Linked DNA regions of Homo sapiens: region 2 is linked to region 1. A link means that fine-mapping ties the variant in region 1 to the expression of a gene that starts in the linked region. Tissue or cell type: whole blood. Region 1 holds a variant in brackets; the other region holds the start of a gene. All regions are shown on one strand. Distances are from middle to middle.

Region 1 (5,388 bases):
TATGCACTGGGAAAATGCTATATTATCCTTCAGTTTAACTGATAATGCAATGCTATAATTTGTAAAGGAAAATATTTATTTTGTAGGAAAGTCCCTACAGAGGACATTGAAGTGGGAAGAGCTCACAGGTGCTAATTCTCCTGAGGCTGGCACACCTTTCTTTTCACCTATACCATCCAGGCAGAAGAGATGCTCCCTCTCTGAGTGCCCTCTGTGTTTGTGGGGAGGGGCATGTGCCAGAGTTCTGGCCAATGAGATGTTAAGTGAAGTCTTCTAGGTATTGGGTCCTGGGATAGAGATGGCTGGCACAGATCTTCCCTTATTCTTACTGCCTTGAATGTCAATATGATGTCTGGAACTGGAGCAGCCATTTTATTACCACGAGGAAGAGATTTGCAAAGATGTTGACTCTTATATTGTTGATCTACTAAACCAATGCCAAGAACTGACTATGTTCAGATTTCTTGTCATTTTAGAGAAATAAGCCTTTAATTATTTAAGATACATTGAGCACAGCTTTGTTTTTGTTGTTGTTGTTGTTTGTTTGTTTAGCCAAAACATTCTTAACTGTGTGTCCCTTGTATTATGTGAAGGGGATACAATGGATATTTATTCTTCTTTATACTGATAACTACAGATAAACAGAAGTTTAGGTGTTTTCTTAACACTTAAAGGTAACTATTCATGGCCATAAAAATGGACATATGTCTTCAAGATTACTAAGAAATGATTAAAGGCAATATAATCCATACAGCAAAGAAAAAAAGAGGCATAAATACAGAATACGGAAATAGAATGACAAGAAGAAGATCAAGTATATCATATCCATTGCAACAAAAATGTAAATGTGTTAAACTTTCTATCAAATGATAAAATATCTCCTACAGGTACATATATATCCAATTATATATGTCTAAAAGACACTCCAGCATAAAGTGATAAAGAAAAGTTAAAGATAAAAGGAATACTGACAGAAGTACTTATATAACTAGAATAATGCATCTTATTAGAGGTTACATGGGAAAATCCTGTCATCACCTTCTACATGGATGTAGGCATAGAAAGGCATCTGATAATATTCAACATTCTTTTCTGACACATTTTCCTAATAAACTCAAATCAGAAGAAAGTTGCTGTCATGGTAAAGACTATCTATCTTTAGGCAGTACCACTTGAAGCATACCATTATTGTCTATATAAAGGTAAGAATCCCCATAAGCTTTGTATTTGTCATTGTTCTATCAAAAGTAATTAAGCATCCTAAAATGATCTGTTAGAAAAATAGAGATGATGATTATTACTACCATACAGAAAAAAGTCTACCTGGAAAACAGAAGAGCTACTGAGATACGTAACAAGGGCTCATTAAATCACCTATTAATAAATAGAAAATCAATGCGTGTCTTTACCCACAATAACCAGTTAAAAAAATAAAATAAAGATTCCAGGGATAATGGCCACAAAAACGTAACATACCTCAGGCTAATCTCAAAAAGAAACGTACAGGACTTCATAAAAATATTATAGCACTGTACTGAGAAATATAAAAGACAATGAAGAAATGGAGAGGGCATCATAGTCTTAAGTGAGAAGGTCTGATGTCGTAAAAATATCAAACTTTAAATTTAGTGAAATTCCAATGAAAGTTCTTATGTAAGGCTTTTTGAATCTTAACAATATGATTTTAAAGTTTTTCAAGATGAAAAAGTGGATAAAGTCAGCCAAAAAGTTATGAGAGAGAGAGAGAGAAAGGGAAGGAGGGATAAAACAAGAGAAGGAGAAAGGGAGGGAGGGGAAGCGCAGAGGTGGATTGTCTTAACAAAATATGAACAGTAAGTTAAAATAGTCTCTTATTATCCAGAAATAATCACAAATATCACCAGGACAGATTCAAAACTTAGAAGCAAACCCATGAATTGTGTGTGATAAGAATGACATTAAAAATGAATGGCACAAGGTGACGGGTATGTTAATTTGGTTGATTGAATCAGCCTATGTTGTATACGTATACCCAAACATCAAATTGTACTCCACAACTGTATATAATTATAATATGTCAGTTAAAATAATAGTAAAATTATTTTTAAAATTAACACGAAGTGGTTAATTCAACAGATGTGAGATCATTTATAATAAAACAAAGTTGGATCCCTACTGGCGGCTTGCACCAAAATAGAATCCATGAGTATGAGTGATTGCAGGGTCAAATGGGAAGTAATAACTTGGAGAAACTATCTGCATTATATGTGCATAATATT[A/C]TTAATACCCAAAGAGATCTTCTAAATAAGAAAGTGAGAAGCACCTCAATAAAAAGATGGTTAAAAGATGTGATTAGGTAATCACGAAAGAAGATACAAATGTTTGAAGTTACCAGAAATGGAAAGAATTCTATAGCAACATTCCATTTCTCACTTAGAAGCTTGGGAGATATTTTGAAAGCTGTAATGATGTTTGGTGATCAAGGAAAGGTGGAATGGAAAACCCATCGGGCCAGGGAGCATAAATTAGTAGATTTCACCATGGAGAGTAATTTGATGTTACTTATATAGCAAACTTGCAGGAAAGTATCCCGAAAAATAATCTCAGATGAAGGCAAATTAAGAACAAGGATGTCAGAGATGTGATAGTTACAATGGTGAATATTGAGAAAAAAACTTAGGAGCCCAAGAATAAAGGAGTGGTATCCAAATTAGGGCACCACCATTTGAAGGCATGCTATGCAGCTATGAACAAATGTTTTAGAGAATATTGTATGGCATGGGAAAGAAAGATGAGCAAGAAAAGGCTACACTATCATATAGATGAATGGTGCCAGTAAGGAAGAAGAGAAGGAGGTGGTGGGGAAGGAATGGCTGGAATTCAGTTCTCTTTCTCTCTCACAGGAAATGGATCTCTCCAGGTTCCCCAGGGTGATAAGTCTGGATAGAACCATTGAGTCATAGCGTTTGGACAGAGACCTCCAGTGAAGGATTTTTTCCTTCTGTTCTTAGAGATAGTTATGCTTGTTTTTCCTCCCACTTAAAGATGGAGGTTAACCCAGCAGGCTGACAGTGTGTGTCTGAGGCAATTCTTCTCACCATGACCGTTGGTTTGTCAGATTTATTTGCAGCAGTAATTCATACCAGACAACTTAACACCATTGCTGTTTCCTCCCCAGCAGTTCAGGGACATTGAGATGAATCTTCAAAGGGCCAACATAGCTCCAGATGCTGGGCACTGTCCCAGACATGGGCCATTTGTCCCATGTGGGCGCCTACAGAAGCTGACATTGCCCAAGCTCAAGCCACACCCATCTGTCAGGGAACAGGTTGGCTGGTGCTTCTTGAATTAGAGTTTGTAGAGTTTGATTTGAGAGAAGTCTACAGTATTTGGAGGAAATGATTTTTTTAAGAAGAGTCACAAATCATCTGTGCTGACTAGGCACTGGATACCTGCCCAACAGGTACATATAATCTTGTCCCAATACGTAGACATAAGGGTCACTTGTACGAATCTCCTATCTCCTACACCCTTTTAATTGATGAAAACCCCATGCTTTATTGCACTTTGCCATTTTTGCAACACTTGTTATGTAACTATATTCCAGGCTGCAAACAGGGCTAACAAAGGCAAGTCAAGAAAACTAAGACATGATTCCTGCTAGTAAGCATCTCACGGTCTACTTGGAAAAACAAATATATAAGCAAATAACTAGAACTCTGAGTACAGTGAAAAGGATGTGAAGGAAGGGCTGTGGGAATTGGAAAGTGATGCTCAACCCTGCCCCCAGGGAGATCCGTGATAGAGACAGTGACATCTGAGCTGTCAATACGAGTCTTCAAAACAGGCAGGTGCATTTCCCTTGAAAGGCACAGCATGTGCAAAGATGCAAAGATGCAGAAGTGGGAAGAGCACAGAACTTGGTATCTGCAGGCACTCAAGCCACCTGGGTAATTTTACGTTGATTTCTGGCATCCCTTGACATGACCATGAAAATCAAATTTTGTATAAGTTGCAGCTTTTAACCAAGGACTCCTGGAGCCCAGAGAGGCCTGAACAGACTCTCCAGGGACCCTGAAGCCCCTGAAAGCAGGTATATTTTCCTGGTCCACAGTTTTCATGAGATTCTTAGGCATCCATCACTCCCAAAGGTTCCGAGGGTCATGTAGATATGGTTACCTCTTGTGTTGCTGGACTGTGTCTCATGGAAAACCTTGAAAAGAGAGAACCACAGGAGTTCCCCAAGACCTGCTTACATTCAGGCGAGGTTGATCTCTTTGAGAATAAAGGTCCTCTCCTTTCACAAATGCAGTCCCATCGGTCCATGTGAAGCTTAGGTTCTGCGTGCTGAAAGGAGGCTCACCCAGCAGAGGTTCCCCCCGAGACTCCTTTAATGCTAGGCCCTTGGGAAGAGACACAGTGCAGGGGTGCAGAAGCAGCATCCAAGTATCTGCCCTCTGAAACTGCCAGCGTCTCTGAGGTGCAACCAGCTTGGATCCTCACCTGCCAGAAAGAGCAACCCCAAGCATTCTTACAGGGTTATGTAAGGACCAAAATAAACCACATGTATGAATGCATTTTGAAAAGTACCAAGATATGCTCAAGCTATCACACCGTTGAAGGGCAAATGCAAACAGAGATAGGAGGCTCTGCTCCAGGCACACCAACCTGGTGACCGTTTGGCATCTGAGAGGGCAGAGTGCTGGGTGGATTTTGGCGCTCCCCTTGCCCTCTTGTGCAGTGAGCAGCCTGTATAAAGCACCTTGGACTTTTTCCTAAGGGCAGGCTGCTTGGGCAGCATAAAATGATAATAAGGTCTCTATTTGTCCAGTGTTATATACTATCCATGGGTTTTTTTCCTCAAATAATCTCATTACTATTCATAACCCCAACTATATTAACAGAGAGTTGAATAGGCATTAGTACATTCATGTAAGCAAAGGAAAAAAGGGTTGGTTCACAAAAGAAGAAATATAGGTGATCATGATCAATAAACATGTAAAAACCAGAAACCTTTGCCTCTCCAGTAATTCAGTAAATAAAAATTAAAACAAGATACTATATTCAACCTGTCACATTGGCAATAATGGCTTTGAAGGTTAATGCTTGTTTGATACATTGCAAAATTTACTGAGTAACTACTAGTTACCAAGCAGTAAAATGGGCAAAGAGGATACAGAGTTGCACCAGTATGACCAAGTCCCTGTCCTCAGTGGGCTTCTGGTCTAGAGCAGGGCTGCTCAGCCTTGCACAATTGACATGCCACGGCAGGTCACTCTTTGGGTGGTGTGTGTGGTTGGGGGGAGGGGTATCCTAGGCATTGTAGGATGTTCAGCAGTGCTCAGCCTGCACCCACTAGTTGTCATTAGCACCCTCTCCATTTTTGGTGAGGATAACCAAAAATGTCTC
Region 2 (5,388 bases), 95 kb after region 1:
TTTTTTTGTTGTTCTTTGTTCCATGGTTGTGCTGAACCCCTATTAAGCTCAATAGGAAGGCCGAAGAGACCCAGAGCTAGCAACCAAGCCATGGGGTTTTATTAGGGGCTTACGTGCAGGGAGAGTGTTCAATGATGGTGGGCTGAACAGGGAAATCACCTTATGTACAGAAATGCTCCAGTGGTGGCGGGCCGGGCAGGAAAACTGTAACCTCTTCTGAACAGCATGTCATGTACATACCATTTTCACTTAACACCCTCCTGGTAACCTCGCCCTGGCAACCTTCATCCAATCCCAAACTCAGGGCCTCAATCCCGTGAACGGCCCACGTTCCACAGAACAGGCCAGGGGCTCAGATGTTTATCATAGACACAGAATCAATCTCCGGGTTGGCCACTCCTGGATTCCCTAGCACAGAACACACATTTAGGCGCATCTGCCATACAGGGTCATTCTAAGGGTATGCTTATTACTATCAGGTGCATTTACCCTACATTCCCCCCTCATGAACATTAAAATGTTGAGGTTTCTTGATGGAAATTTTTTGTCCATTCGTAATTTTGGTTTAATCATTGTTAGTTTTTGATCAAGCTCTGTGGGGCCTCTGTGGCATGTACAGTGCTGTGCTGGACAAGGCAGGGGACTAACAGAGTAACACACGTCCCCATCCCCTGCAGAGCCGGAGCCCTGCCCAGGAGAGAGAGAGGGTGTAGACAGCCTCATGACGATGCAGAATGGGGAACAACTGTGTCATAGCAAAGGACCACGCATGATGTTAGGGGTGTTTAAAGGGCAGAAAAGAAGTCTGTTCCAAGAGTCAGGGACCAGGGAGGCTTCACACAGGAGCTGGACACCAGAGCAGCTTCTGCTAGGGCCTCCTGGGAGACATAGTGATCTGGCCTCTCCAGGAGAATGCAATGTCCCACCTGACAACCATGCAAAGAAATGAATGGTGAAACAGACAGCAGGTCCCCTTTGCCTATTACACTAGCATTAAAATGTAGTGGACATACCTAGTGCTGGCAACAGTGTGATGAAATTGGCATTCTCATCTATTTCTGGAAGCATCTGGCAAACTGCCTACTGGGAAGATAAGCTTTTGGAAATCATCAGTCAACACGCGTGAAGCGCTATTGTCGATGTTTGTGTCATCGGCCCAGCAATCAGACATGTGGAAATCTGTCCTAACGGATGTTGTTGTTAGCAAAAGAAAAACAATATTCTCCACTGGGTTCATTTCCCAACAGCTGGAAGCAATACAGGCATCAGAGAATGGCCACCTGAATGAATACTAACTGCTCAGTGTTGAGTAGCCCTTAAAATAATTTTTCTGAAGAAATTCAGCCACCTGCAAACAAAAATCTTAAGGTATGTTAAATTAAAAATCATGTCTCAGAATTTTACTGAGGACAATTGCAAATACTCAACAAGTAATAAACCTTGGGCAAAGATACTGGAAGGAATTACAAAATAATAGTGCTATCATTAAGATGGTGTGGTTGGTTGTGGTTTTTATTACATATTTTCCCTGCTTTTCAAATGCGCTAAGATGTTCTTACAGATAACAGTTGGAGAATGCAAAATATTAGAGAGAGAGAAATGAGAATGAAAGGTCACCTCCTTATCGTTGAAGTGGTAATAAAAGTAGTCACAGGACCTTCTCATTGCCAGCAGCACTAGCCCTCATGTGAACTTTATTTTCATTCTTTTCTGTTGCTGAAAATTGGTATCCAAGGGCAGTTAAGTCTCAGGGGCATGGCTTGACCTCAGGCTGACCTCAGCCCAGCACCAGGCTGGATTTCTGAAGCTAAGCAACAGGTTCTGAGGTAGGTCAGAGAGGGTGGTCACAGCCTCACTTAAAGGAGAGCAAACTTGCTAAATAGATGGCGAGAACAAGCCACCTGCGGTGCACAAGCCGCATCCCAGGCTCGTGGTTAGACCATCCTTTAGCGAGGAGGTCAAAGAGCGAAGGAAAAATCCGCGAATTCATCCAAGTGCAGAAACCCAAGATGAGTGTCCTTGGGCTGACCTGCGCTCATTAGAATACTAAAGAACTGGGTGGAGATTTACGATGCTAACGAGACATGCGATGTGTGTACTAGCATGCACAACCACAGCACATGTGCCACCAGGAGACAGCCCAGAACATGCTTCACGGCAACACCCCTTCCCAGCCCTTCATGAATAATCATGTAAGACCCCCATAAAGGGGGTTTCCCCAGTGTCGGCCAGCACTGCCTCGCCTTTGAGCGGCCGCTCCGATCCGCTGGCAGAGTGCGCTTTCGCTGTGCGATCAACTCCCTTGCTTACCTTTACTTTGGACGTGCTCTCAAGTTCTTTTGTGTGGCGAAGTCAAGACCCTGAACCGGTCCACCAGCAACAGTTCTTTCGGAGTCCCTCAACCACAGGCCCTGAAAGCCGCTGAGTTAAGTCTTTAAACTGCGGGAGAGCCTGGGAGCATCTGAAACGCAAAAGGACTCCCAGTGGATAGGGAGGCAGCACCCTGACCGGAACCGGAAGAGGTTTGCCGGTGAGCCTGAGTCTCCACACACAGTGATCCGGGCACCCGGGCTGCCGTGTGGCAGGTGAAACCGCGTGTGGTGTGGATGTTTCTCCAGCTGTGTTCTGTCGAGCCCCTAAAAGTCTGGCCTGCATTGGAAGGGCCTCCCCAGTGTCCTCGTTTCTGTTCAAACAGAAAAGTTCTTATTTTCTGTATTTGTGGTTTTTGCTTCCTCATATAATTTCGGTTGCACAAAGCTAAAAAATATTTGAAAACCTCTACTTAATCGTATAACTAAATGCAACATTATCTTTTGCTTATTTAATAACTATTTTAATATTTATTTTCTATTTATATTAATAGTGATAATAAAAATATAGCTTGGAGTGAGAGAAAAGCTTTCCTCTCTGTTAACTATCACTGTATCATTTAACTACCACTAGCTATTCCTCACAACGGTTTCTAAAGTGTAAGCACCTGCCACCTCATTAGCCTCTAAGCTCCACAGTGCCAGGGACTCTTTGCCTTAGTCTCTGCTATGTGCTCAGAATACCCAGCACATACTAGGTTTGAACAAAATGCATTTTGGAGAGTGGATGCTGCTGCCACCTGGTGACAGCATACCCACATTTCATGCTTAGCACTTTGATTACTTAATGAAATTCATGAGGAATGGAATCAGAAAACCTAAGACATGCATCTGTGTGATAGCAATCTCACTTTCCTCACTTAGCTTTTTCTGTTTCCCTACTCTGCACAGATTGGAGACATCTGAGTTTTCTCTGCCCCCATCACCTGCACCTGCCCTGGTGGCATGCACTTGCACCTCCTCTGTCTGGTATTAGGTTGGTGCAAAAGTAATTTCTGTTTTTGCCATTACAACTGCATAAACTGCGATTACTTTTGCACCAACCTAATAATAGGGCTTGCCCCTCCAGAGGATAGAATCTTTGCTTGTCACCTTAGAACTTCTCACACAGAGCACTGCATTCATCAAACCCTGGTCTCAGCCATCCTCGGGGCACATGGAAGGTCATGCCCATAAATCAATGCCTCAGCCAACATCTGGTCTCCCCTTCTGCCATTCCCTGTGTCCCTGCCCTGGCACCAGGCATTTGCAGGTGCAGGGGGCAACATCATTTAGTTAGCTTCATCTGGGCAGGGAGGAGCATTATTAAACATGAGAGATAGCTGTTGGCTCATGGAAAAGATTAGTTTTAAGCTATTTAAGGCAAAGCAATAAAGGATGTGGTTTCCTCCTCTGACATGCTTCCTAATTTGTAGATTCATATGACATCACACTGGATTACAAAGCCACATTACTCTGATTGGTAATATTATGCTATCCTAATTCAGTTTGTATAATTATTTAATTTTTTAGGACTGCTCTCAAATATTAACATTGTGTTCGGTAGAGGCCAGAAAAAATTGGGAACATGCATCCACACACGTGGAGAAGCTTAATTGCTAGAATAATGCAGGGCAATTATTGTAATGAGAACAAAGCCTCATGTCTGGCATACACATGTGACTGTGTCCAGCCCAACTTCCACTGAAGTGACAGTCACTGGACTCGAAGCTCCTCAAGGACAGGGGCTGTGTCGCCTTCACAGACATGACTCATTGCCGGTGCTCAATCAGGGTTGAGCTGACTTGACTTGAAGCCAAATAAGGACAAAGAAAGGTCAGGCAGTCCTGAAAAAGCCAAGGGTCTGAGAGACAACACTCGCTGTTGTCCTCGCTGTTTAATTCTCTGAGGTCCATTAGGAAGTAGGTAGGAGCCATGTCATCATGGCCACTTGGGCCAATCGTCTGCACAGATGGGGAAGGCATCTGCCCCCACAGTGAACACTAGGCTTATCTGCCTCCTAAATCTCTCTCCAGGCTAACTTCCATGGTTATTCAAATCCCTCTATTAAATATTCAGACCTCCAGCCCCTGGACCTCTATGGTCCTCCTGACAAAGCTAGAGCTGTGATTTCTCTGCACCTCCATTCTTCATCTGCAAAATGGGGCCATAGAGTCTACTCCACTGGGTTGAGAAGCTACTGGAAACCAGGCTGCCAAGTGCCTGATGCAGTATCTGTCTTCAGCTGGCCTCCACACAAAGACAGTTTCCTCTTTTAAATTATATCTAGACTTTTAATCATTTTTTTACATTTTTATGGGTACACAGTAGGTGTATATATTTATGGGGAACATGAGATGTTTTGATACAGGCATGCAATGCACCATAATCACACTATGGAAAATGGAGTATCCATCTCCTCAAGCATTTGTCCTTTGTGTTACAAACAATCCAATTATATTCTTAGCTATTTTTAAATGTACAATTAAATTATCGTTGACTCTACTCACCCTATTGTACTATCAAACACTAGGTCTTATTCATCCCCATGTCCGTCCTCCTCACCCCCGCAACACTTCCCAGCCTCTAGTATCCATCCTTCTACCCTCTATCTCCATGAGTTCAATTGTTTGGATTTTTGGATCCCACAAATAAGTGAGAACATGTGATGTTTGTCTTTCTGTGCCTGGTTTATTTCACTTAAGATGATGACCTCCAATTCCATCCCTGTTGTTGCAAATGACAGGTTCTTATTCTTTTTTATGGCTGAATAGTACTCCATTGTGTAAAGTACCACATTTTGTCCTCTTATTGCTTTTCGTCACTGCTGAGAGCCAGTCCTATCTGCTGCTTTTCCAGGGTTTCCTAGGAAGATGCCCACTCTATGTGTTAGACCAGAAGTTTAAGTTAACGTGGTCTATGGACAATCACAGCCCATGCACCCATGGCAGGGCCTCAGGTACCTGCATGTCACCAACTCCTTACCCCAGAGGAGATGCCCACTCTGGCTGGGAAAGTTTAACCACTTCGACGCACACAT

What was found. PIP is the estimated chance that this variant, and not a neighbour inherited with it, causes the effect.
Region 2: it holds the start of MIR646HG, and the variant in region 1 is fine-mapped to the expression of MIR646HG in whole blood (INTERVAL, PIP 0.94).

Annotation. Positions count from the first base shown.
Region 1 is chr20:60,230,985-60,236,372 of GRCh38, reverse strand. All of the region lies in intron 3 of MIR646HG (MIR646 host gene), which reads right to left. Among named protein-coding and RNA genes, the nearest start is that of MIR646, 75 kb to the left of the region's middle. The variant A/C (reference allele first, on the strand shown) is at 2,259.
Region 2 is chr20:60,135,567-60,140,954 of GRCh38, reverse strand. It overlaps MIR646HG (MIR646 host gene), which reads right to left and starts at 2,463. Exons shown (of 5, transcript NR_046099.1): 1 at 2,311-2,463.